Linked DNA regions of Homo sapiens. The protein of the gene in region 2 interacts with the protein of the main gene of each other region in a pairwise test. Each region holds a gene or a part of one and is shown on either strand. Other genes may lie near its edges.

Region 1 (3,500 bases), on a different chromosome or scaffold from region 2:
TTTAGGAAAAATTAATCTGGCTACAATGGAGTCAAGAATAGGAAGAAACTGCCTTGTAAATAATTCCGTTTTCTAACAGACTAAGGTGAAAGTTAAAAGCATAGTAAGAGCTAAAGATGACAGTAAAGGACACTTAAAGGTCTCAACATTAGTCTAGTGAGGGGAGGTCTGGTGCGGTGGCTCACGCCTGTAATCCCAGCACTTTGGGAGGCCAAGGTGGGCAGATCACCTGAGGTCAGGAGTTCGAGACCAGCCTAGCTAACATGGTTAAACCCCATTTCTACTAAAAATACAAAAAAATTAGCCAGGGACAGTGGCGCGCACCTGTAATCCCAGTGCACCTGTAGTCCCAGCTACTCGGGAGGTTGAGGCAGGAGAATCGCTTGAACCCGGGAGGCGGAGGTTGCAGTGGACCGAGATCACACCATTGCGCTCCAGCTTGAGCAAGAAGAGCAAAACTCTGGCTCAAAAAAAGGAAAGTCTAGCGAGGGGAAGTGAAGGAGGTGGTCATAACTATGAGACCACATTAAGCCCCAGAAGCAAAAATTTTAAATGTTACAGAATTAAGACAAAAAGAAGCAGTTAAAAGATTTGGCAATTAGGTCACTAGCGACCTCAGAAGAGATTTGTTATAGTGTTGACAGTGCAGATCAGACAGTGGATTTCTTTCTAAAAGTATAGGGAAAAGAAGAAATCGTTAGAAAAAGATGCAGAGATTCTGGAGGATAAAGCATTTTTATCTCGATGGAGGATAAAGCACTGCAGACTAATGAAAAAGCCAGAAGAGGGAAGTCGGTGAAGAGAAACATAGAAATTCTTCTAGTCATTACCAGATAAGCACACACTAAGTTTACCATACCAGGTGGTGGCAGCAAATTCATTATGTTTGGTCCATATAAACAGACAGTTTAAGAATTGCAGCTGCTATTAACTGAGCACCTACTATTGGCCAGCTGCATACCCTGTATTATTTTTAGTCCTCACCTCAACAATCTCAGGAAACCAGGCATTACCATACTCATTTGTTAACTGACTGAACTACAGCTCAGATGTTACATGACTTGCCTGATATCGCAAACTGGTAAATACTGGAGCAAAATTGTTTTTAATAGTTATATTAAAGCATAATGTACGTGTAGTAAAATTTACTTATTTTAAGTGAAAGATTTGATAAATGTATTAAATGTATATACTTCTGCAACAATCACCACAATCCAGTTTTATATAACACTCTATCACCCCAAAACTCCCTTCATGAGCAGGGCAGATTTAAGCCTGAATCTGTATGACTCCAACTCATGTCATGCTACAATGAGAAAAATGGCTTTTTTTGGCAGAAAATCTGCAAAATTAAGTCGTTACCCTTCCAATCTTCTCTTAGTACTCACTAGTTCCCTTTCCATGTGAGGCCCTCATATATCTCTAGAACCATACTCACATATCATGATCTCACCAAATTCACGAGTTTACTGTAATTTGGAAACATACCCCCTAAAAGGACAGTATAATCAGACTTTTATATAGGATGCTATTACAGATACTGTGCTCTTTTTTTAAAAAAAGCAAAAGGAGTTAGGAAAAGGAAAGACAAATGAACAGGTAAGTCCAGGAGGAAGACTGAATGAAAACAGAAGAGTAAGGTCCTTGAAAAAGGAAAATGTGATATACAAATAAAGAAAACATGAAATAACAGAAGTCAGGAGTCTGTGTCATGGAAGAGAGACTAACTGGAACAGAAGCTTCTCTTCCATAAGCAATGTAAAACCGTACAGAGACATAGGATGGAATGACTTCCTAGGCAGGAGTTAACACTTATTTGGCTAAGAAACAGGACTATACAATAATAAGACAGACAAAAATCAAAATAAAGTGAGACAATATTCATAGTAAAGTTATAAAGCTAAAACTTGTTAAATTTTATAATCATGATTTTCCTATAACTAATTAAAACAAGTGCAAATTTTTCTTTAGGTAAAAAAACAAGCAGGCTGGGCGCGGTGGCTCACGACCATAATCCCAGCACTTTGGGAGGCCAAGGCAGGCAGATCACCTGAGGTCAGGAGTTCAAGACCAGGCTGACCAACATGGAGAAACCCCGTCTATACTAAAAATACAAAATCAGCCCGGCGTGGTGGCACATGCCTGTAATCCCAGCTACGCAGGAGAAACGCTTGAAACCAGGAGGTAGGGGCTGCGGTGAGCCCTGATCACACCATTGCACTCCAACCTAGGCAACAAGAGCAAAACTCTGTATCCAAAAAAAAAAAAAGAATTATAGACATATAAGAATTCAGGCCTGGTGCAGTGGTTCACATCTGTAATCCCAGCACTTTGGGAGGCTTAGGCAGGTAGATAACCTGAGGTCGGGAGTTCAAGACCAGCCTCACCAACATGTAGAAACCCCATCTCTACTAAAAATACAAAATTAGCCAGGCGTGGCGGCTCATGCCTGCAATCCAAGCTACTCAGGAGGCTGAGGCAGGAGAATCACTTGAACCCGGGAGGCGGAGGTTGCGTTGAGCCGAGATTGCACCATTGCACTCCAGCCTGGGCAACAAGAGAGAAACTCTGTCTCAAAACAAAACAAAACAAAACAAAAACAAAAAAAAAAACAAGCAAATATAGAATTATAAATATATAAGAATTCAGGCCTGGTGCGGTGGCTCACACCTGTAATCCCAGCACTTTGGGAGGCCCAGGCAGGTGGATCACCTGAGTTCAGGAGTTCAAAACCAGCTGGCCAACACGGTGAAACCCTGTCTCTATTAAAAATACAAAAATTAGCCAGGTGTGGTGGTGCACACTTGTAATCCCAGCTACACAGGAGGCTGAGGCAGGAGAATTGCTTCAAGTTGAACCCAGGAGGCGGAGGTTGCAGTGAGCTGAGATCATGCCATTGCACTCTGGTCTAGGCAACACAGCAAGACTCCGTCTCAAAAAAAAAAAAAAAAAAAAGAATTCAGATACCATATCAGGGCCAGAAATAATTAAAATGATTAAAATAAGATATGACAAGCCTGGAACGAAAAAAAGTACAAATCTAAACAGGAGGATAAAATAAAATTTTCATTTAACTTATATTTTCACTTCCACCCAAACCTTTCCTTAGTTCTATAGAACTAGAAACACAATTCACTAAGTCTAGATGAAATGCTCTTCCAAGCAGAGCCAAAGAAACTGCTAGCCCATAATTAACAGAACACATATTTTATGACTATCTAATATATAACAGGTGTTGTAATATCCAATTTGTTAAATCAGTCCCCTGATTATTACCCTGAACACTCTGTCTAGTCCAACTTGATATTCCAAGAAACACTATTCTTCCTAGGAAAAAGACATACCTCTTTGAAATGAATGATTATAAAACTGTTCCAGTATTAGAAGAGAAGTCATTTTTTAATGTTAAGTAACAAAACCCAAAAATTTAGTTGTCAATTCTTACACTAGTAAGTCCAGAGATGGTATCCAGGTGACTACGGCAGAGAGTAATATACACA
Region 2 (3,500 bases):
TCTCATATAATCCTGTCCAAGTGCCACCAAATGAAGCTTGTTGTGTGTTACCACTTCTTATAATCATATCTCTTTCTTGAGAAACATCAAAATCCCTTGAACCTCTACAAGAAGAAAGAATCAGCAAACCTAAAGATAGGTAAATTAAAATTACTGAGTCTGTGGACTGAAGGAAAATGAACATACATGTGGAACCCCACCAAACATACTAATATACATATAATTGGAGGCACAGAAGGAAAAGAGAGTGAAAGAGGCCTAAATATTTGAAGAAATAATGGCTAAAACTTTCCAAATCTGATGAAAGGCATGAATCTAGCTCATAAACTCAATGAATTCCAAGCAGGATAAATGCAAAAGGATTCATATCAAGATGCATCATAATCAAATTGTTGAAAGACAAAAACCGAGAGAACCCTGAAAGCAGCAAGAAAAATGCAACTCGTGAAAAGGACACTCAATACAATCAACAACTGATTTTTCACTGGAAACCATGGAGACCAGAAGGCAGTGGGATAACATATTCAAAATGCTGAAAGGAAACTGTCAACCAAGAATCCTCTATCTGGTAAAACAACCCTTTAAAAATAAAGGCAAAATTAAGATATTTCCAGATAAACAAAAACTGAGGAAGTTTGTCACTGGTAAACTTCCCCTAAAAGAAATACTATAAAGAGTCCATCAGGCTGAAATGTAAGGGGATCAGACAGTGGCTTAAAATCACATATGAACTAAAGGATACCAGTAATTGTTGGTATTTACATAGGTAAATATAAAAGTGCATATTACTGTGTCTTTGGTTTGCAATGCCTCCTCTTTGCTATATGATTTAAAAGACTACATAAAACAGTAATTATGAATCTATATTGATTGGCACAAAATTCATAAAGCTGTAACTTGTGACAATAACAACAAATACAGGAGCAAAGTTTTTATATACCACTGAAACTAAACTGGTATTAATTCAAACTAAATTGTTATAATATATAGTGTTAATTATAACCCCCAGGGTAAATACTAAGAAATACACACATAATTATTTACTATATTTTATTTATATATATAATTCTCATATATACATATTCTCACATTACATAAATATAACATATCTAAATATATTATATTAATATAAATATAATATATATCTAAATATATTAATATAAATATAATATATATCTAAATATATTAATATAAATATAATATATATCTAAATATATTAAATTTTTATTAATATATATCTAAATATAATATATCTAAATATATATTAATATAAATATATATCTAAATATATTAATATATTTAGATATGTTATATTTATTTATATAATGTGAGAATTATATGTATATATGAGAAGGGGATCAAAATGGTACACTAGAAAATATCTGACACAAAGAACAGCATCAGAGGAATTGACAAACAAAAAATATATAAGACATAGAGAAAACAAATAATAAAATAGTAAATGTATTTCCTTATCACTAATTACACTAAATGTAAATGGGCTAAACTTTCCAGTTAAGACACATAAGGCCAGGGCCAGGCACAGTGGTTCACACCTGCAATCCCAGCACTTTTGGGAGGCTGTGTTGAGTGGATCACTTGAGCCCAGGAGTTCAAGACCAGCCTGGGCAACATGGCAAGACCCTGTCTCCACAAAAAAAATGACAAAATTAGCCAGCCATAGTGGTATGCACCTATGGTCTCAGCTACATGGGAGGCTGAGGTTGGAGAATAGCTTGAGCCCAGGAGGTCGAGGCTGCAGTGAGTTGTGATCGTGCCACTGCATTCCAGCCTGGACAACAGACTGAGACCCTGTCTCAAAAAGAAAGACACAATGAATAACAGGATAAAATGTAAAAACACAATCCAATTATATACTGTTTACAAGAGACTCAATTTAGATCCAAAAATATACACAGATTGAGAGTAAAAGCATGGAACAATACATATAGCAAAAACTGACAGAATTGAAAGGAAAAAAACCAAAAAGAGTTCCGCATTAATGCTTGGAGACTACAACGTACAACTTTCAATAATGGATAGAACAACCAGACAAGAGATGAACAAGTAAACTGAACACTTGAACAAGACTTAAACATGGCCTATCAGATATCTCTAGAACACTACACAAAATAGAATACACATTCTTCTGAAGTGCATAAAAACATTCTCAAAGACCAAAGTCTAAAATACTACACTACAAGTCAAGTCTCAACAAATTTGAAAATATTAAGCTCATACAAAGTATCTTTTCCAATGACAATGAAAGGAAATTAGACATCAGTAACAGAGGCCAGGAACAGCAGCTCAGGCCTATAATTCCAGCATTTTGGGAGGCCGAGGGAGGCAGATCACTTGAGCCCAGGGGTTTAAGACCAGCCTGGGCAACATGGCAAAACTCCCATCTCTACCAAAAAATACAAAAATTAGCCGGGCGTGGTGGCATGTGCACCTTTAATCCAAGGTACTAGAGAGGCTGAGGTGGGAGGATTGCTTGAGCCCAGAAGGCAGAAGTTGCAGTGAGCCATGATCACACCACTGCACTCCAGCCTGGGTGATACAGTGAGACTCTGTTTCAAAAAATGAAAGAAAAGAGAAGAGGAGAAGGGAGGTGAGGAAAGAGGAGGGGAAATCACTAACAGGAGGAAATCTGGAAATTTCACAAATACATGAAAATTTAACAATCAACAAGTAAGAAGAACTCATAAAGAAAACTAGAAAATAATTTGAAATTAATGAAAACAAACACATATAGCAAAATCTATGGGATACAGAAACAAGTAACTACATTTAAAAAGAAGAAAGATCTTGAATTGGCAACCTAAACTTCTACCTCAAGAAACTATAAAAAGAAAACTCAATACAAACTAAGCAGAAACAAGGGGGAAAAAATACAGCTAATACAAATGAAATATAGACTAGAAAAATAATAGATGATCAACAAAACCAAAAGTTTATTCTTTAAAATGATGAGGCCGAGCACAATGGTTGACACCTATAATCCCAGCACTTTGGGAAGCCAAAGTGGGAGGACTGCTTGAAGCCAGGAGTTTGAGACCAGCCTGGAAAACATAGCAAGACCCTGTCTCTACAAAAATTATTTAAGAAATTAACCAGGCATGCGCCAGCATGCCTGTGCACCCAGCTACTCAGGAGGCTGACAAGAGGGAAAGTCACTTGAGCCCAGGAGTTTAAGGCTGCACTTCCATTTACATAGCTATAAGCTATGATCACACCACTGCACTCAAGCCTGGGTGACAGAGACCCTGCACACACACACACACACACACACACACAAAATTGGCTAGACTAAGAATAAAGAGAGAAGACTCAAATTTTAAAATCATGTATAAAAATGGGAACATTAATATCAACCTTACAAAAAGTACACAATTATAAGAGAATACTATAATTGTATGCTACCAAATTGATGAAATAGATGACAAATTCCTAGAATATAAACTATAAAAACTGACTCAAAGGAAATAGAAAATCTGAGT

Evidence for each region. Proteins that work in one complex are often made in the same cells at the same time.
Region 1: the proteins of FBXL17 (region 2) and ZMYM2 interact in a two-hybrid assay, tested with the Homo sapiens proteins (one large-scale study listed by BioGRID).

Annotation. Positions count from the first base shown.
Region 1 is NC_000013.11:19,965,227-19,968,726, reverse strand, and holds part of ZMYM2 (zinc finger MYM-type protein 2), read right to left. Parts: coding exon of another isoform or gene 3,446-3,500; intron 439-3,445; exon of another isoform or gene 325-438; intron 1-324. UniProt on the Homo sapiens protein: Involved in the negative regulation of transcription.
Region 2 is NC_000005.10:108,372,099-108,375,598, forward strand, and holds part of FBXL17 (F-box/LRR-repeat protein 17), read right to left. Parts: intron 1-3,500. UniProt on the Homo sapiens protein: Substrate-recognition component of the SCF(FBXL17) E3 ubiquitin ligase complex, a key component of a quality control pathway required to ensure functional dimerization of BTB domain-containing proteins (dimerization quality control, DQC).